Homo sapiens: one gene and its partners. The protein of the gene in region 5 interacts with the protein of the main gene of each other region in a pairwise test. Each region holds a gene or a part of one and is shown on either strand. Other genes may lie near its edges. The genes, in order: GTF2E1, CHAF1A, AATF, XBP1 and PCBD2.

Region 1 (4,346 bases), on a different chromosome or scaffold from region 5:
CGCTTTCTGAGTCACTGCCATTGGCAGCGGTCACTGGAGCAGCTGCCCCCACTGAACCAGCCATGGCAGAGGAAGTCTTTTTCTCGTGAATGAGCAGTGCTCGCATGACCTCTTCGTTGTCATCAGGCCCAGCATGGCCTTCCTCACGCTCCTGAAATGCGTCCATATCTATGCCCCCTGGGGAGTAAAACTCAGAAAGTCAATATCCTTAAATATAAATGGCATTTCTTTATAGCATATAGACAATATTTTAACATATATTTAAATAATACGATAAAATAACAGACTTCACTGGTTCCATTTTTGAGCTGCTATCCATAAAATATTCAAAATATTTCTTACAAACTGGAGCTTAAGTAGCATAATGGTCAAGTACATTGGCTTTAAGAGTATTATAGCATAGATTTGAATCCTGGTTCTTCTACACACAAGCATCTTGGGCAAGTTATTTAATCTCTAAACTTCAATACCTTTTTCTGTAAAATGAGGTGATAAAAGCATCTACTTTCTAAGGTTCTGAATAAAAACATATAAGATAATGTCTATGAAGAATCGACTAGAGTAGCTGGCATAACAGAAAATCAAAACATGGCTCTTTATCTCACTCAAGGTAAAAGCCAAAAGCTTTGCAATGGCCTATAGGGTCCCACATCATCTGGAATCCTTCCTGATCATCTACCTCTTACTTCTTTCCCCTGCTCATTCTTGTCTAGCCACAGTAGCCTCCATGGTATTCCTTGTACATATCAGACACACTCCTACCTCAGGGCCTTTGCATTACCTGTTCCCTCTGCCTGGAATATTTTTCCTTTAGGTACTCACACAGCTAACTCCCTTCCATCTTTCATGTCTTTATTCAAATGTTACCTTTTAAATGTATCCTATCCCTACATTCCCAATGCTCTATTTTTCCCCCATAGCACTTATTTCCTAACATAATGAATAACTTACATCTATTGTCTTTGTCACCCCCTTTCCAAGGATGTAGGTTCTACCACAACAGATATTTATCTTGTTTATTCATGGATATATCCCATTTACCTAAATAGTACCTGCCACTCTGTTAGGCACTGAATAAACATCTGACAAATGAGTGAATAAATGTGAGTTTTATTTTCATGAAGCAAACTAAGCATACTTAAAACTCTTTATAAAAAAAGAATCTAATTTTAGGAATGAAGCTTCTCTCACCACACACCTCCTATCATTTTGTGTACATATCTTACCTGATATACTGCAGATGAAATATTTAAGAAAACCATCTGCATTCTGCATTCTGATACTACTACCAAACATACTGCCATTTAAAATACATAAAAAGATTAAAAGTATTGTTTGGAACCTGACTCCCTGATTCAAATCCTAACACTATTTAGCTGTATGATTCTGGCCAAGTTATTTCATCTCTCCGCTTCAATTTTCTCAAGTACAGAAAGGGGGAAAATAGTATTTACTTCACTAGATTACTGTGGGGATTAAGTGAATGTCTGTGAAGTGTCTAGAATGGGCCTGGCACTTAGAATAGTGTTATCTATCATCATCGTCATCAAGAGAAGACTCAGAAATGGTCAATTCTGACTATGGATAAAGTGAAAGCATCTTCTCATTAACACATTAAAATGAATTAGCTAAATCCCTGGACATTTTAGAAGGCACAGAACTCCTAAAATGAGATACTGAGCAGATAAGAGAGAGAAAGGGAAACAGAAGCAGACAAGTTAAAAGTTTAGGTCAGAGAAAAGAGGCTTTTGATAACATGACTGTCAAAATGAGAGTTAAAATCAAACTTAACTACTTCAAAATATTGTCAAAGGCTGAACCTCCTCCTTAGAGCTTACTGCCAATGCAGCACTACAACAGAAAGAAAAGAAGGTAAGGAATGCATGCAAGCCTTTAAGACAATAATTGCTTCTAAAAGAATGTTCCAAATAGTTTAATAATATCAACACAGTATTTTGATTAATGTTTAAGTATTAAATTAGGGAAAAAGAAAATTAGTTTTGTAAACTAAATTAAGTCACACGTAACAGATTTCTGACAAGGGTCTTGAGAGGTTTGGAGAAAAAAGAATTATTCTGTTACAGATGAAGACAGAAAACAAAAAACAAGGATAAATGAGCAAATTTCTGGATGGTAAAGTAGAAACAGTGGTTCTAGGAACAGCCTTTTTCAACAGAGTTATAAATTACAAAGAAGATGTATACTGGGAAACTATATTCACGGAATTGATGCTAAGCAATTGTGGGTACTGAAAGGCCAAGTTGCAGCAAAAAAATATAGGAAGAGCTGAAGGTTGTATACGTGGGCAGAAAAGTAGCAGATCTATTTCTATTTCAGCAAGTGCAAGAAAATCAGCCTGCAGAAAAATAATCTAAAATATACTGAAAGATATGATCCAAGCTATTGGATTCAAGGCACAGAAGAACCTAAAAAGTACCTCTACGTGTTTCTAGAAGTTTTTGGTCTTAACATGCTTCCAGAACCAAAGCAACAAACAAAATCTCAAGTAAAAACCAGAAAGATACTGGAAATAAAACTCAAATCAATGGTGAATCCATGCATGAACAACATGTATCATTCTGGTCACTATGTCTCAAGTAAAGTATATTACAATTAGAGATGGTCCAGAAAAAGACAAAAATAAACAAAAACTGTAGGAGGTGGCAGCAGTGGAAAAGAGAACTGTTTAAGGAAAACAGAATCAAAAGGAATTAGAACTTTCTTCAGTATAGTAATGAGAACATGATTGAAGTCGATACAATTGTGAAAGATATCAACATGACTTGAAGTTTGAGGAAAATCAAGTGTTAAGACCCACTTCATACATTCACTGGATAGAGTCTGCTCTACTATCAAGAAACTTAGGATAAATTCAGACATGACAACATACTATCCTATTTTATGCAGAAATAAATATTTACAAAACTTAAGTAGACCAGATAACTTATTTAAGGCCCATATGATTCATATTCTATCATTTTAGGAACTGTAAACTAGAATGTTAAACTTATGAGCTTAATATATAATGTTGGTTAATAATAATTTTATTTTATTCAGTTTTCTTCCTAAGTTCAAAGAAAAGAAGGCTGCTTTAAGAACAGGCAAGAAGCCAAGTTGGGGAAAACAAATTTATTAAGTAGTAGTATAGCCTAACTACTGTATAATCTAAAACAACTTCAATCTAAATAACACAACAGGCTGGGCACAGTGGCTCATGCCTGTAATCCCAGCACTTTGGGAGGCCGAGGCAGGCAGATCACTTGAGGTCAGGAGTTTGAGACCAGCCTGGACAACATGGCAAAACCCCGTCTCTACTAAAAATACAAAAATTAGCTGGCCATGGTGGCTTGCGCCCAATTCCAGCTACTCAGGAGGCTGAGGCAAGAGAATCACTTGAACACGGAAAGCAGAGGTTTCAGTGAGCCAAGATCGCACCACTGTACTCCAACCTAGGCAACAGAGCGAGACTCCGTCAAAAAAACTAACATGGCAGGCTAATCAGTGAGGAAGAAGGAGGGTAAAGTATGGTTGCCTTGGAAAACCTTTTCTTATTAAAATTAATATATCAAAGAGAATCACAGTAGAGGTATTAGCTGCTTTACCATCACTACCAAACTCCACGTTACCTTCACAATTTCTAGTATATACATATACTAAATGCTAATTATGAAGGGAAAAGAGGCTAGGAGAAACGCCAAAAAACAAGTGGTTTTCAGCTACTGATTATTCTTTGGCACTAACATATCACCAAACTCACGTGATATGTTAGTAATGATATATTAACTTGGGAGTAGCGGCACATTGATTGTTACACTGATAAAATTCAGCAAGAAATAGAGACACCCTTCCTCTCTACTTTCCAGCTTGAGTCATCGTCATCCATTTTTGCCTCCCATTTTCTACATACTCCTAAACCATCATCACTCAAAGTCTTGAATGCAGTAACTTAGACTAAAACTTAGAAAGTAAAATCTTGCAGTTCTCTAACTTCCGAAGATTAGTATGCAATTCTTAACCCTTTATGCCTCAGAAATTTCCAAAATCCTCTAGAACAAAGTTCTGCTAACCGTCTTGGACTGTGAGAATGCTCAATCCTTTATTCATGTGGTCTCTTTGTATCTATTTCAGGTAGCATACACTCCTTGGTATTTATGAAGAGAAAACATAAAGTTTGGGGTAGCGTATAGTTTTGGCTCCCAATTCAGAAAAATTAAATGCATATAAGTCAGGGTAATATAAGATTAAAGGAAAGGTGAGTATGGCTACCTTGAAAACAACAGATAGCATTTTTCCAAGAAATTAAGATAAAAAGATGACAATTTTTCAAATCTAAAAATGAAAATTTA
Region 2 (4,104 bases), on a different chromosome or scaffold from region 5:
GTGAAAGCAAATGGAAACAGCTCAGGAATCTTACTAGGGTCAGGTGCGGTGGCTCACACCTTGTCATCCCAGCACTTTAGGAGGCCGAGGTGGAAGGATGGCTTGAGCCCAGGTTGAGACCAGCCTGGGCAACATAGTGACACCCCCTTGTCTCTACTTAAAAAAAAAAAAATTAGCTGGGCGTGATGGCGGGTGCCTGTAGTCCCATCTTCTCAGGAGGCTGAGGCAGGAGAATGGTGTGAACCCAGGAAGTGGAATTTGCAGTGAGTCGAGGTCTAAAAAAATAATAATAATAATTCACAAGTCACAGTCATCACTTCACATCAGGGACGTGTTCTGAGAGGTGTCCTCAGGCAATTTCATGGTTGGGTGGGGCTAGGTTGCTCTTACACATCCTAGATGGACAGCCTGCCACACGCCTGGGCCGTGTGGTACATAGCCCAGGGCTCCTGAGCTGTGGACCTGTGCAGCAGGTGACTGACTGCTCCATCCTGCAGGCACTTGTAACCCAGTGGTATATGTGTCTTTAACATAGAAAAGGCACAGCAGAGGCCAGGTGCGGTGGCTCATGCCTGTAATCCCAGCACTTTGGGAGGCTGACGTGGGCGAATCCTGAGGTCAGGAGTTCGAGACCAGCCTGGCCAACATGGCGAAACCCCCGTCTGTACTAAAAATACAAAAGATTAGCTGGGCGTAGTGGCGGGCACCTGTTAAAAAAAAAAAAAAAGGCACAGCAAAAATATCGTTGCGGCTGGGGCAGTGGCTCACGCCTGTAATCCCAGCACTTTGGGAGGCCAAGGCAGGCGGATCACTTCAGGTCAAGAGTTCGAGACCAGCCTGGCAACATGGTGAAACCCCATCTCTACTAAAAATACAAAAATTAGCCGGGTGTGGTGGCAGGTGGCTGTAATCCCAGCTACTCAGGAGGCCGAGGCAGGAGAATCACTTGAACCTGGGAGTCAGAAGTTGCAGTGAGCCAAGATCGCACCACTGCACTCCAGCCTGGATATATGGCAAGACTCTGTCTCAAGATTTATATATATTAAATAAAAATACAGTTGTCTGTAATCCCAGGACTTTGGGAGGCTGAGGTGGGTAGATCATAAGGTCAGGAGTTTGAGACCAGCTTGACCAACATGGTGAAACCCCGTCTCTACTAAAAATACAAAAATTAGCTGGGCGTGATGGCATACACCTGTAATCCCAGCTACTCAGGAGGCTGAAGAACGAGAATCGCTTGAACCCGGGTGGCGGAGGTTGCAGTGAGCTGAGATTGTGCCACTGCACTCCAGCCTCAGTGACAGAGTGAAACTCCCGTCTCAAAAATAAAAAATAAAGGCCAGGCATGGTGGCTCACACCTGTAATCCCAGCACTTTGGGAGGCTGAGGCGGGCGGATCACGAGGTCAGGAGATCAAGACCATCCGGATAACACGATGAAACCCCGTCTCTACTAAAAATACAAACTGGGCGTGGTGTCAGGCGCCTGTAGTCCCAGCTACTCAGGAGGCTGAGGCAGGAGAATGGCGTGAATCCGGGAGGCGGAGCTTGCAGTGAGTCGAGATCGCGCCACTGCACTCCAGCCTGGGCAACAGAGCGAGACTCCGTCTCAAAAAAAAATAAAAATAAATAAATACAGTTGTAATCTGATGGGGCCACTATCAGGTATGCGGCCTGTCACTGACTGGAAATTATTCTGCAGTTGGCAATGATGGCTGTTTTTGGAGATCTGAATCCAGTTCATTTGAGGGAACCCCCAAGGTTCTCTGGTTGTGGCCTCTTGAATAAACCTCTCACATTTGGACAGTTTGTTACCAAATTGGGTTCTGGATGTTGGTTTCCTTCCGTGTTGGGGGTGGGAGGAAGGTGTCACACCTGTGGAGTTCCCCCCGCTACCGCACTGGCACCAGGGTGGCTGCTGCCTGCAGTGCTGATGGCCGTGTACCCTGTCTGTCCAGATTGGTGCTGAAGACATGGACGGCTTCCAGGCAGACACGGAGGAGGAGGAAGAGGAGGAGGGCGACTGTATGATCGTGGATGTCCCGGATGCTGCGGGTGAGAAGGGCTGTAGATAGCAGAACGCACTGGTGAGGTGGGCGCTGGAGGTAAACCTCAACAGAGAAGGGATGGGGCTGCCTAAGACTAGCTCCACTGTGAGCAGCCAGGAGGGCTTGCAGCTGGAAGTGGCTCCTGCCCTGCCACATCCTCGGGCGGGCTGGGCCGTGGGTGCTGACCATGCCAGGCATCGTTCTGGCCGCAGAGCCACAAGGGCCTATGCTGGGAGTCTCAGGTGGTTGTGACGTTAGATGGGGGTCAGGGAAGGCTGCACTGAGGCAGCAAGGGAGGGCCAGGTGGATTTCTGGAGCACTCGCCAAAGAGGAAGTACAGAGGCCCTGCAGCAGGCTGCGTGGGAGGAGTGTGCCCGGGTGGTGGGGGGCAGGCAGGGTCAACCTGAGAGCAGGTGAGCAGGTCACCTCTAGAAGAGGCACAACGCCCCAGCCTCTGCCTGTCCCCACTGTCAGGTGGAGGGTCCCGCCCTGGGGTTGTTGCAGGCCCCATGAGGCAGCAGGGTGGGGTCTTCCCCCAGGGAGCCCAGAGGGCCCAGCCAGCTCAAGACCCTCCCTCTCTTGCCCTGCAGAGGTCCAAGCCCCGTGTGGAGCCGCTTCCGGAGCTGGGGGTGGTGTGGGGGTGGACACCGGCAAGGCCACCCTGACCGCGAGCCCACTGGGTGCATCCTGAGAGCAGGGGTGACGTATGTAGAATGCTTAGGGTGTCCTCCCCACAGAGCAGATACTTGAACCGACTCAATTCCTGTGTAAAGAGCACTTTGTCCTGCTTCACGGACCTCCCCAAAGTGTGCAGAGTTCTATATAGGATGCTGGATTAGTTCCTTTGATATTTGTAAAAATTCCCCCAAGAGCCGCATATGAATCTGCCCTTTAATAAAGCATTATTGAGATTGCTGGCCTATTGGGGAAGCCTGCGGGCACAGGAGCAGGCGTGGAATCCAATACTTGTAAATGAATTGAAGCGTCAGGACCACCCGCCTGGCCACGTGCGCGGGCCCCTGGACCTAACGAGGCAGTGTATAAACTTATTCTCTAGCCCTGAGCTGCTCTGTCTGTCTTTTCCGAAAACATTGTGTTTCTCTGAGAGTGCACCTTGCCCATGGCCCGGCCCCATGTGGTGCCTGGTGTCTGGGGCCAGCCTTGTGCCCTGCAACAGCACCGTCCCATCTGTTTGTCACTAAGTCACCCTCATACCAGGCTGACCTGGGTCAAGGTGCGGGTTTTTCCGCACGTGCTTCTGTCCGGCGATCCCTCCTGCCCTGGGTTGGGGGGTTAGGAGAGGGTGTTCCCAGAGACCTGCTAGGGTCACCTCCCTGAACCCGGAGCTGCTGGGAGCCGAGTTTGGCTTCGAGTCTGAGGCTTTGTGAGAGCCCACCCCAGGTCAGGTGCATCTTTTGCGAGTGCTGGAGCTAGAAGGTGACCTCCTCCCCGCCCCAGGTTGAGTGGGCTTTATCCACACTGTCCGAGGGAGGACAGGCGACAGCCGCTGTGGTACTGAGCAGCTCAGAGCACACGCAGCCACGGGGAGGGTCACGCTCGCCAGTCCTGCTCTTCCCAGCCACACCCCACCTGAAGTCCTAAGCTTCCCTTCAGGGAACCCTATGTGGGAAAAGTGTCAGCTACCTCCATCCACCCAGTCAGGGACGGCAGGGCGCCCGGGCCAGGCCTTCCTGCTGGGAAGCAGGATTCAGCTGTGCCTGAAGCAGAGGCTGCCCCTGTGCCACACCTTTGATGAGCTTTACAGGGGCTCCCGACAACCCGGAATCAGGTCCTGGGGCCTGCAGGACGCAGGACTGGAGTGACAGCCTCCATTCTCAACAGGCCGGGTGCCCACACCAGCTGGGGCAGTGCCGGGGGCGAGGGAGGGACCAATGCAAGGTCAGGGGCACGAGCATAGGCCCCGGGCACCTCCCCCAGGTGCAGACCTGCATCCCCAAGTCAGCAGTGGGGCCGGGGCACACATGCCTTCCACACTGCAGGGCAGAGTCCCTGTGTCTCCTGGGGCTGCTGTACCACAAACCTGGTGGCTTAAAGCA
Region 3 (4,346 bases), on a different chromosome or scaffold from region 5:
AGCAATTCTCCCACCTCAGCCTCCTGAGTAGATGGGATTACAGGAACCCACCATCATGCCTGGCTAATTTTTGTACTTTTGTAGAGACGGTGTTTCATTATGTTGGCCAGGCTGGTCTTGAACTCCGGACCTCAGGTGATCTGCCCACCTTGGCCTCCCAAAGTGCTGGGATTACAGGCATGAGCCACCACACCCAGTCTGTATGTTTGTTTTTTTTGAGACGGAGTTTTGCTCGTTGCCCAGGCTGGAGTGCAGTGGCGCAATCTCGCCTCACTGCGACCTCCACCTCCCGAGTTTAAGAGATTTTCCTGTTTGGCCTCCTGAATAGCTGGAATTACAGGTGCCCGCCACCACACCCAGCTAATTTTTTGTATTTTCAGTAGAGACGGGGTTTCATAATGTTGGTCAGGTTGGCCTCGAACTCCTGACCTCAGGTGATCCACCTGTCTTGGCCTCCCAAAGTGCTAGGATTACAGGCATGAGCCACCACACCAGGCCAGTTATGTTTATTAAGAAATTACTGTTAATGTTTTTACATGAGATTATGGTATAATTTTTTAAAATCCTTATCTTTTGAACATACATGCTGAAAATTTTACTGATGAGAGAATGTGTATTATTTGCTTCAAAATAATCCAGAAGGTGAGCAGAGTTGGTACAACTACAGATGAAATAAGATTGACCATGAATTGATTATTGCTTAAGCTGGTGAAGGCATGTGGGGGTTCACTGTGCTATTTCTCTACTTTTATATAAGTTTGATATATCCCATAATGAAAAGTTTTAAATAACTCATGGTGAGATTTCCTTAAGTAACTTCCCTTCTTCCTTACATATCATTGCCACCAACATAAAAGATGTATTTCCTAATACAGTAGAAATTCTAAAAGAGAGAAGGCCAGGCACAGTGGCTCATACCTGTAAGCCCAGCACTTTGAGAGGCCAAGGTGGGTGGATCACAAGATCAGGAGTTTAGGACCAGCCTGGCCAACATGGTGAAACCCCATCTCTACTAAAAAAAATTACAAAAATTAGCCGGGTGTGGTGGCATGCGCCTGTAGTCCCAGCTACCCAGGAGGCAGAGACAGGAGAATCGCTTGAACCTGGGAGGCAGAAGTTGCAGTGAGTTGAGATCGCACCACTGCACTCCAGCCTGGGTGACAGAGAGAGACTCCATCTCAAAAAAAAAAGAAAAAAAAGAAAGAGAGAAAAAGCAAACCCTTTTAGAGAAATGGTTTTGTGCACAGAAAATCCCTTAATTTTGTTAAGATTACTCCATGACTTACCACTTATGCAGCCACTAAAATATCAGACGATGTCTTTGAAATCACTTCCACAGTTCAAGTTTAAATTACCAACATGTAACACCAAGGTGACTGGGGACTAAGTTTACGTGTTTGGGGTGGTGTGTGGAGAGGAAGGAGATATTCATTTAGTTTCTGAAAAGTAGAGTTTAGGGTGCTGAAGCTACAAAGGCATGGTACTCAGGAGTTTACTGGAGCTAGAATACAGCTGGAAGTCTGTTATTTTAGAGGCAATAGTTAGGGTTATCAGAGTAAGTGACAGTGCCAAGGAGAGACTATATTGAGAAAACGCAACCTGAGGACAGGATTCTAAACGGAATGAAATTTACATTGAGAGGATACAAAAGGAACCAGAGAAGAGATCAGAAAGGTAGGAGAACCCAAACAGCACAGGTAGTGTCACCAAGCCAAAGAAAAGTATTTCAAGGAAAAGTTAAACGCTTCAAGGAGGTAGTAGCTGGGTATAGCAATAAGGAAATCTGTAGCCATCTTTCCATAGCGTCGTAAGAGGCCAACACTGCATTGTAAGTATTAGTAAACTATAACACTTTCCAGAACAATTAGTTAATTTAAATTATATAAAGAATCCAAATACTAATAAAAAAGTAAAAAACACTGAAGACTAGTGAGGCTCAGTTACACTGATAACTATTGAGTGATTGCTCACATGGTCGAACACTGCCAAATGCCTCTTTGAGCAGAAAAAGATAATATTAGTACCTAACATTCATGGTGAGATGTGTGCCAGACACTGTGCTAATGCTTTCTATTGATTATGTCCTTTAATCCTCACAACCATATTATCCCCATTTTACTGTGAAGTTAAGTAACTTGCCCAAGGTCACATGGCTAATCCATTGCTGAGATGAAATCTAAACCAAGCCGGTCTGACTTTAACTACTCTGTAAGACCAAGCAAATTGAAAAGAGATTTAATTAAAGACAGTAAGTTCCAGTGGTTGTTCTGGGGTTGGTACAAATTCAGCCTATGTTCCACACCAGCTATACAGCACAGTAATAAATTGGTCATCCAGAGTAATGTGCTCAAGAATTTTCTCTCTCTCTCTCTTTTTTTTTTCGGGGGGGACAGTTTCGCTCTTGTCGCTCAGGCTAGAGTGCACTAGCACGATCTCAGCTCACTACAACCTTTGCTCCCGGGTTCAAGTGATTCTCCTGCCTCAACCTCCCAAGTAGCTGGGACTACAAGTGTGTACCACCATACCTGGCTAATATTTTTATTTTTATTAAAGATGGGATTTCACCACGTTGGCTAGGCTGGTCTCAAACTCTTGACCTAAAGTGATCCGCCTGCCTCAGCCTCCCAAAGTGCTGGGATTATAAGCGGGAGCCACCGTGCCCGGCCAAGAACTTTTTTTTTTTTTTTGAGACGGAGTTTCACTCTTGTTGCCCAGGCTGGAGTGCAATGGCACAATCTTGGCTCGCTGCAGCCTCCGCCTCACAGGTTCAAGCAATTCTCCTGCCTCAGCCTCCCGAGTAGCTGAGATTACAGGCACCTGCCACCACACTTGGCTAATTTTTGTATTTTCAGTAGAGACGGGGTTTCACCACATTGGCCAGGCTGGGCTCAAACTTCTGACCTCAGGTGATCAGCCCACCTCGGCCTCCCAAAGTGCTGGCATTACAGGCGTGAGCCACTGCACCCGGCCAAGAATTTTTTTCTTAAAGTCTGTTTATCAAGACAGGGGAGTATACAACATATTATGTCATATTGCCACAAGAAAAATTAGCTACTCTTCAAATGCACAGCTCATTACTTGAAAACTCCCTACCCTCCCACCTTAGAATATGTGATACCAAACTTCCTTTCTTCTCCCTCCTCCACCACAACCCACCCTGTCAGATTAATAGATGCTGTCAGATTAATTGAGGTTCATCAATGAGGTAAAGGCAATTGGTTAAGTACAAAAAAGAGTAAAAAGATCAGAACAAAATAAAAGTTAAATAACACTGCAGTGATTAAAGACACTAAATGAGTTGAGTATGGTGGCTCACACCTGTAATCCCAGCATTTTGGGGAGGCTGACACGGAAGGATCATTTGAAACCAGGAGTTTTGAGACCAGCCTGGTCAACATAGTGAGACCCTATTTCCACAAAAAAAGAAAAAATTAGTCGGGCATGGTGGCTCATGCCTGTAGTACCAGCTACTCAGGAGGCTGAGGCGGGAAGATCACTTGAACCCAAGAGTTCGAAGCTGCAACGAGCTATGATCACGCTACTGCACTCCAGCCTGGGCAACAGAGCAAGACCCTGTCTCATAACAAAAAGAAATTAAATCGTATCCAAGAATATGTGTCCATTATACTGGACACTGACTAACCCCTAAAATATCTATATTTAAATATGAATTTTTTAAAATGAAAAAGGCTCAAGCAAAAAGAATAATGAGTAACAAAATGAAAACAGGCCTTATCGTGAAACATTTAAAACATTTAATCTAGAGCAGTCTAGGTCTCATTCCAAAGGCATACCAGGAATTAGGGTACTAGGACACTAAAAATAGCAGAGAAGTGCTCCAAAAATCTCAAAAAACTTGAAAACCATCAATCTGTCATCTATTTGAGAGAGAAAGGAGGCAAAGACAGGGGCGGGGATATAAATGGCCCACCTCACCCACACAGGCCACGTAAGGCTCCTGGGAAGGACTGCCCAGACTTCCCACAGGGGAAGAAGCAGACTTTAAGTGTGGCGGGACACAAAACCCAAAAACTGGACTCTAGGAAGCCATTCCTAATTACATCAGGTATTCACCTACAAGAAACGTTCACTGAACTCCCTACCTGGGAAATCCTACACATTGATCTTGAATGTCTTAAGGCGGTTCTACCTACAGGCAGATGCCAAATTAGATATCCTCCTCAGGTCCCTTCCAACTCTAACTCCATGATACTAAAAAAATAAGTTTTAAAGAGCAAATGAAAACATGAAGTCTCAGCATGCAAGTAAGACATATTGATCTCAGCTGAGCGCAGAGGCTCATGCCTGTAATCCCAACACTTTGGGAGGCCAAGGCCTCCCAAATA
Region 4 (3,510 bases), on a different chromosome or scaffold from region 5:
CGTCTCTTTGAATCTTAACCTTTAGAGATACCATTATCCAACTTTACAGATGAGGAAATAAGTGATTATATATAACCCCTGGGTTACCCAGCTTACCAGTGGCAGAGTTGAAAATAGGGAGTTTCAGTCTAGAAAATGCTCTTAATTCCCATAATAAGGGCAAGAGAATCTCGATATGTGATGGTGTGTCCTTGTTTAACATTTATAAGATGGTGTAGCAAATAGTGGTTAGGGTTCTAGCTCTTCCACTTACTAGCTGTGATATTGGTCAGTTAGGCTCAAGAATCTGTCTCAGAAAGACAGTAACTGCTCAAATTATAGCTTATATCACTTATGGCAGTCCAGAATTAAAGCAGGCAGTAATTAAGGTGGAAAAGCCTTCAGTCACTTTAAAAAGCGTTAGGCTCACTTCAGTTGGATTAATTCCTACCACAGCACACAGATAAACATCTGGAGAGAAAACAAGACTTACGGCCCTAGAAGAAATCAAACAAGGATGCTGCATTGTACCTTTTAATTGCATGGGTAGTTTTAAATAAATGGAGAAAGCACCTTTCAGAAGCTACACTAGCAGGAAAAAATTCCATCAAGCATTTACATAGTAAATTTCTATAATTTCACAAAAGATTCTTGATCTTACTTGAAGTATACATGAGGGAAAGAGCCCCCTCAGCAGGTGTTCCCGTTGCTTACAGAAGCAAACTAAAGGACCTAAAACTGGAGGCAAGCCAGGATGCCAAAAAGGGGGAAGAGAAATGATAAAGAACCATTCATAAATTCCATGTCTACTTCAAGACATTTGTCTAATGACCCTTACATAATAAGTATTTTAGGGAAAACTACCACCCTTTTAAGATAAAAGTACAATCTTAAAAGCTGTAGTTCTCAATTATAGTAATATTTCTTACTTCCAGTAATATGTCTCAATACCTTGGACTGCTGGATGTCAAAAGACAATACCTGGGGGTCATCTATGAGATCTGAACAAATAGAGGAATTCTCTAGGACTGTATACTCTCTATTTTGGCTTTTTGAATGAAGTACAGACAGGCTTCTCTGCTATCCTCCAGGCAGTGTAATAGTCAAGGAAAAGGGCAACAGTATTGGATCATTCCTTAGACACTAATCAGCTGGGGAAAGAGTTCATTGGCAAAAGTGTCCTCCCAAGAATGGTTTACACCAAGCAGAGAGGACATGTCACTGAATGGGGAAAGGGAACCCCCGTATCCACAGTCACTGTAAGCATCCAGTAGGCAGGAAGATGGCTTTGGGCAGTGGCTGGATGAAAGCAGATTTGAGATACCCAGCTCCGGAACGAGGTCATCTTCTACAGGTTCTTCCTTCACTGAGACAATGAATTCAGGGTGATCATTCTCTGAGGGGCTGAGAGGTGCTTCCTCGATTTTCACTACCACATTAGCTTGGCTCTCTGTCTCAGAGGGTATCTCTAAGACTAGGGGCTTGGTATATATGTGGTCAAAACGAATTAGTTCATTAATGGCTTCCAGCTTGGCTGATGACGTCCCCACTGACAGAGAAAGGGAGGCTGGTAAGGAACTGGGTCCTTCTGGGTAGACCTCTGGGAGCTCCTCCAGGCTGGCAGGCTCTGGGGAAGGGCATTTGAAGAACATGACTGGGTCCAAGTTGTCCAGAATGCCCAACAGGATATCAGACTGTAAGAGGCAAAAATTAAATGAAGTACAACTGTCAGAATACAATGGAAAATCTAACTGGAACACTTTGTACTGGGTTCCATAATGTAAATTAGTCATTATGTGATAAGATGACCTCGGGACCCACCAGACCCATTTATCTACACTTCACTCCATGTTCTATATTACCTGGAACTAGGAAGGTAGTTGATGTTCACCTCCAACCCCACCAAAAACTAACTTCAACCCTCATCTGTCTAGTTAGGGATGTCAAGCATCAAACAGATGGAATTAACTGGTTATATAGCTCTTTAATAAGTCAGAATGATCCCTACCTCTGAATCTGAAGAGTCAATACCGCCAGAATCCATGGGGAGATGTTCTGGAGGGGTGACAACTGGGCCTGCACCTGCTGCAGAGGTGCACGTAGTCTGAGTGCTGCGGACTCAGCAGACCCGGCCACTGGCCTCACTTCATTCCCCTGGGAGGAAAGACCAAAGTGAATAAACAGCTTCAAGTGCCCAAGGAAATGCTTGCTAGACAGCTGTGATTCTCAACTTTAAAGAATTACTTTTCAAAAAGATTCTAGGGTTAAATTGCTATAGAACTTTATTATCTAACAACATTATTATTATTGAGAAGAGCAAGATAAGATATTTGCCAGTTCTGCTTGAATCTTTGCCTGGAGGAGGAAAAATGTTTCATTGTGCAGGAAATGTATAAGGAAGCCTTACCTCCCTTTTCTCATCTCTTGAGGACTTAAAAGTGGAAATAACAATGGTTAGGGAAAGATTTCAGCTGTAAAGAATGGTTTTCTAGTTTTCTTGAAATTTGTCCTGAACATTACCTTCACAGAGTAAAACTGTGCTACTGTCAATCTTAGACCATTTGATTGTTGTCACTGAATTTGCCATAATCTGTAGACTAAAACTCACATACCACCCTTCTCTTACCACAGAGGTATCACTATTACAAAGAATCCTTTCCCTACTCATTCATATTCATCAAAGAACTACTTTAATTTTAGTAGCGTTCAAAATCTGGTTTGAGTGGCTCTCTTACTTTGGTTCTCCTTAATGATTGCATGGTAATCTTGTTGGCTACTGCATTTGTTAGTACTTGTTCTTAGGGAGCCATGTAACTTGTTTTCATTATTAGATCTTAGTACTGTTCACTACACACTTAAAAAATGAGTGTCAAGTGCCTTTAGGGGAAGAACACTCTGCCTGCATGAAAATGTCTTAAAACTGAAGGAAAATTTCAAGAACGCTCTTGATCAGAAGTCCAGACTGTAAACATAATCGCTGGGTCATGTCACTTGGAACCAGTACTCACATGAGGCACCAAATAAAGGAGATGATTTACCTTGGCTTCCGCCTCCTCTTCAGCAACCAGGGCATCCATCCCCAAGCGCTGTCTTAACTCCTGGTTCTCAACTACAAGGCCATGAGTTTTCTCTCGTAAAAGCTGATTTTCTAGCAAAAGTTTTTGGTTCTGGAAGAAAGTTCATAAGAGGCTATTAAAACATCTAATTATTTCAGTTAAGAATCTACCTGATTCAGTATAATTGGTTTCCTTTCCTTCTTGAACTTTTGGAAAACTCTATGCTTGTGGTGTTCATAGTAGGTTTTAAAAAGCTAGGCCATAATTATGGAAAAGCAAGCTACTTAATAAGTGCCACTTCATGGGGTCAAGAATAACACACTGCTTCCAACTACTAATACTGACTTCAGCAAAGGGTGACTTGTGGCTTTAATGTAGATATAATTTTTTTTTTAAACTATCTTGGCCAGGCTCGGTGGCTCACACTTGTAATCCTAACACTTTGGGAGGCCAAGGCAGGTGGATCACCTGAGGT
Region 5 (4,346 bases):
CCAGCCTGGGCAACAGAATTAGACCCTGTCTCAAAAAAAAAAAAAAAAAAAAAAAAAAAATTAGAGGCCCATCAGGCTTTAATAGACATCCCCATACATCCTATTTGCATACATGCAGAACAATATTTAGAAGATAAATTTCTAGGTTAGGACAATGGATATGTCCTTTTTTTTCTTTTTTTGAGACACAGTCTCGCTTTGTCACCCAGGCTGGAGTGAAATGGTGTGATCTCGGCTCACTGCAACCTCCGCCTCCCAGGTTCAAGCGATTCTCCTCCCTCAGCCTCCTGAGTAGCTGGGATTACAGGCGCACGCCACCACGCCTGGTTAATTTTTGTATTTTTGGTAGAGACAGGGTTTCACCAGGTTGGTCAGGCTGGTCTCGAACTCCTGACTTCGTGATCCACCTACCTCAGCTTCCCAAAGTGCTGGGATTACAGATGTGAGCCACCGCGCCCGGCTCTGGTATGTGAGTTTTAAAAGTTGATAGGCATTGCTCAATTTCCCTTCAAAAAGATGATGTCAACTGGGTGCAGTGGCTCATGCCTGTAATCCCAACACTTTGGTAGGCCGAGGCGGGCAGATCACCTGAGGTCAGGAATTCAAGACCAGCCTGGCCAACATGGCAAAACCCCATCTCTACTATAAATACAAAAAATTAGCTGGGCATGATGGCGGGCGCCTGTAATCCCAGCTACTCTGGAGGCTGAGGCAGAAGAATCACTTGAATCTGGGAGGTGGAGGTTGCAGTGAGCCAAGATCGCACCATTGTACTCCAGACTGGGTGACAAGAGTGAAACTCCATCTGAAAAAAAAAAAAATAGATGATGTCAAATGACACTCTCAGCTCATCACTATCACCTCCCCATCACAACTGTACTTCCCTACCCTGCCGAGACTCCAAGGGCCAGCGTTTCTGTCCCTCCCTTTTTTCCCTTGTCCCTCTGTTCCTCCATTGCATTCATTTAGCAAAAGTTCAGTCCTTGTTAAGCCCAACTCTGCATCTACTCCAGCTTGTGCACAGCAGCGGAACACAGCAGGAAAAAAAACATACAAAATGTTCACTTTAAATGTTTGACCCCAAATCTGTAGTGACACTGAGAACTGCTTAGCAACCAGCCACGTTTCTCAAGTTTTTTCACTATCTTAGTCTCCAAAATGACTATTCCACTCCTTCTCTTATCTCCCCAGGTCTCCAACACTCTTCCCTTCCACCCCTACTTGCTCTCAATTGATGATCTCACTAAAAAACAAAAGCAATCAGGAGAGAATGGCCCTCTTTTTCCCAGGATGAATGTAACGGCCTATTGGCATCTAAACCACAATGGACATATCATCGCTGTGCCTCCACTGCCCATCTGATCCTGTCCTCTCCTGCCTAACTGGACCATGCTCTCACAGTGATCCCCTCTGACAACTCACAAACTGCTGTCTCAGCCTGAACTCCAGCCTCTTACACCCACCTCCTAACCCAATAACTCCATTTGGATGACTAATAAGTACCTCAAACCTGACATGTGAAAACAGGATTCTCACCTCCATACCCCTGCCCCCCACCTTGCACCCCATCTTCCACAGCTCAGTAAATGGCTCCAGTGGCACTACCCTTTACACTATAGCTTGAACCAAAACCTTGGTGCCATCCTTGACCCTCCCCTATCACACATCCAATCATTCAGCAAGTCTTGATTATTCTACTTTCAAAATATGTGGAACCCTACATTTCTCTCCATCCCCACTGATACCTCCATAAGACCCCCATCATCCCCGGTCTAGACATCTGCAACAGTGTTCTACAGAGTCTGCCTGCTTCCACTCTGACCTTCCTACCGCCTATTCTGAGCAGAACAGCCAGGGTGATTTTTTAGAACACAGCCACAGGATGACACTTCTCTGCCTGAAATCCTCCATTAGCTTTCCTTCACAGAATAAAATCCAAACTCCTCACCACGCCAAGAAGGCCCCCATGCTCTGACCCTTCCCCTCGTCTCCTCGCCTGCTCCACTCCACACTGGCCTTCTGCTTCTGGCTCAATCATGCCAAGGTCATTCTGCTTTGGAAACTCTGTGCTTGCTGTTCTCCAGCTGGAAAGCTCTTCCCTTGGATCACCATGTGCTGAGCTCCTTCACATTATTCAGGCCTCAGAGATCCCCTCCCCAGAGAGGACTTTCCAGACCACTCTACCTCCAAGAGTGCCTCTGTCCCCCTCCACTCCAATTCCCTACTTTATTCTTCAGGGTACTCATCACTAGCTGAAATTATATTTCCTATTCATCTGTTTATTGTTTATTTTCCCACTGGGATGGGAGCTGTATGAGCTTAGAGTAGCACCTAGCACACAGAAAATGCTTAATAAATCTTTGTTGAATTAATAAATATTTCATGATAAAATTTAAAAAATTTTTTTAAATGTAACCACATGTATAACTGGCATGCTCTGGCATACTTGGCAAACAAACATACCCATGGAGAAAGACCAGAAGAGAACAGAGAAAAATAAAAGTAGTTGCGATTGGAAATTTTTTTTACTTACACCATCCTATTTTAATGTTATGCTGTTGTTACAATAAAAAACAATGGCTTTTCTGTCCTAAATGAAAGATGAATGAGGACCCATCAGCGCCAGAGGGTCACTACTCTACTCACGAGTTGTGAGCAAGAGAAAACCAACTCCTGACACCTGGGCGCTGGCCTGGTACTATCAACCAGTCCTTGGTGCTCTCCTTTCGAACATCAACATCAACACCAGACAAGGCCACTCTGTGACCATGATGGATGAAGACAAAAACAAGACCACTCTGCAATACCTGAACACAGACAAAACATGAACATTGTCCAAGCCACAAAATACCAAACATCCTCCTCTCCCAGCTAATGAGTGACTATTGCTTCTTCTTCAGTTTCAGCTTTGGCACTGCTTTAATCTACTCTCCCTATAGATACGATTTATTAAAATACCAAATGACAGAGTTGCCCATTTCCTGACAGCATCTAATCCAGAGTAAAGTCCCCAAATCACTACCACAGCCCAAATCCTATATGGGCTCACCCCACGGTGCCCTTTGGTGTGCACTCTCCCTCACAGCAATAAGCAATAAGCTCAACTTGTTCGACTGTAGGTGTGTTCCTAGTTGTGTTTCGCTGGAGGGCACTGACAACTGTCAGGACACCAGTTACCATTACAGGCCATGGTACACGCAGAAGTCATAGGAGCCTAGTGGGAAAACTGACCCCCGGATATAATCTCAGTGTTGGTTCTCTGAATACATTCCCTGACATCAGCTGATTTTCTTGTCATCTGCCTCTTTTTCCTAAAAGTTGGGTGAATGGGAAAAAAAAAGTCTACTTAATTAAATGCCCCAGTGAATAATGTTACAATCAATCCAGTATGCTTCCCTACCATTGCTGAAAGTCACCCTGAGCGCAAGGTCAGAATGGTGCTGGAGGACTGAATCATAGGCAGGGCCTGAGGCAACACCATTCGAGTACTTTAAGCCACATGTTCAAGCCCAATAAATTAGGCCAGGTTTAAAGAAGTCAAGCTGTACATATGTAAGAATTTTAATAAGCTTGGAAAATGCTACCTAGAGCTTATGCACAGGCTTACTGTACCAATGGGATTCCCTGCCACCAGCCACAGCGTGCTAAGCCCCTAACAAGAGCTGTTGAGCACGTGGGGCAGCGGGGACAGGGAGTCTGCTTGGTCCAGGTTTCCTTAGGAGTTGGAGACTCACAGCAGAGGCTGGCAGCCAGATGGATAGAGAACAGAATCGGGCATGCAGCTCAGTGGAGCCAATGACATTTACTAGGAAAACATGCCGAAGGTTTCTTTGGTGCAAATCTGGTCCTCACACACCCTTCTAGAAACTAGCAAACACTGTAATCAATGTCTGCATTTATCAAATGCCTGTTTGTACCCAGAACTGTGTTGGGTACAATAGAGAGTTATTTAAGCAAACATGGTCTCTGACTTCTAGATGCCGACACCCAATATAAATAAAAACAATAAATCTGTCCAAAGGATTACCAAACTAACTGAACAAACAAAATAGTCAAAAGCATTTACCTTTTACAAATGCAGTGGTGTAATAACTGAAGGTTAAGTCATGGGAGATGACTCTCTAAACAGGGTGGGTCCCTAATGGAACAGTTACCTTGTTAAAGCTGACTTCCAAGGGGGAGGTCAGGTTTTAAGAAAAGGTTCAGGATCTGGCTACTGGGCTGGAGAAAAATAAGCCAGTCAGGGAAAAGGGTGCAGCCTGGGAGATGACTGAGAGATAGAAATTTAACTGCAGGAAGAAAGAAAAATTACCAACGGCCCAGAAAAAGTCAGGGAAAATAAGTCA

The links.
Region 1: the proteins of PCBD2 (region 5) and GTF2E1 interact in a two-hybrid assay, tested with the Homo sapiens proteins (one large-scale study listed by BioGRID and IntAct).
Region 2: the proteins of PCBD2 (region 5) and CHAF1A interact in a two-hybrid assay, tested with the Homo sapiens proteins (one large-scale study listed by BioGRID and IntAct).
Region 3: the proteins of PCBD2 (region 5) and AATF interact in a two-hybrid assay, tested with the Homo sapiens proteins (one large-scale study listed by BioGRID and IntAct).
Region 4: the proteins of PCBD2 (region 5) and XBP1 interact in a two-hybrid assay, tested with the Homo sapiens proteins (one large-scale study listed by BioGRID and IntAct).

What each region holds. Positions count from the first base shown.
Region 1 is NC_000003.12:120,776,874-120,781,219, reverse strand, and holds part of GTF2E1 (general transcription factor IIE subunit 1), read right to left. Parts: intron 178-4,346; coding exon 1-177.
Region 2 is NC_000019.10:4,440,288-4,444,391, forward strand, and holds the end of CHAF1A (chromatin assembly factor 1 subunit A), read left to right. Parts: intron 1-1,957; coding exon 1,958-2,054; intron 2,055-2,637; coding exon 2,638-2,738; 3' UTR 2,739-3,110; downstream 3,111-4,104. UniProt on the Homo sapiens protein: Acts as a component of the histone chaperone complex chromatin assembly factor 1 (CAF-1), which assembles histone octamers onto DNA during replication and repair.
Region 3 is NC_000017.11:36,955,015-36,959,360, reverse strand, and holds part of AATF (protein AATF), read right to left. Parts: intron 1-4,346. UniProt on the Homo sapiens protein: Part of the small subunit (SSU) processome, first precursor of the small eukaryotic ribosomal subunit.
Region 4 is NC_000022.11:28,794,060-28,797,569, forward strand, and holds the end of XBP1 (X-box-binding protein 1), read right to left. Parts: intron 3,147-3,510; coding exon 3,018-3,146; intron 2,134-3,017; coding exon 2,095-2,133; coding exon of another isoform or gene 2,069-2,094; coding exon 1,988-2,068; intron 1,674-1,987; coding exon 1,116-1,673; 3' UTR 501-1,115; downstream 1-500. UniProt on the Homo sapiens protein: Functions as a transcription factor during endoplasmic reticulum (ER) stress by regulating the unfolded protein response (UPR).
Region 5 is NC_000005.10:134,911,151-134,915,496, reverse strand, and holds part of PCBD2 (pterin-4-alpha-carbinolamine dehydratase 2), read right to left. Parts: intron 1-4,346.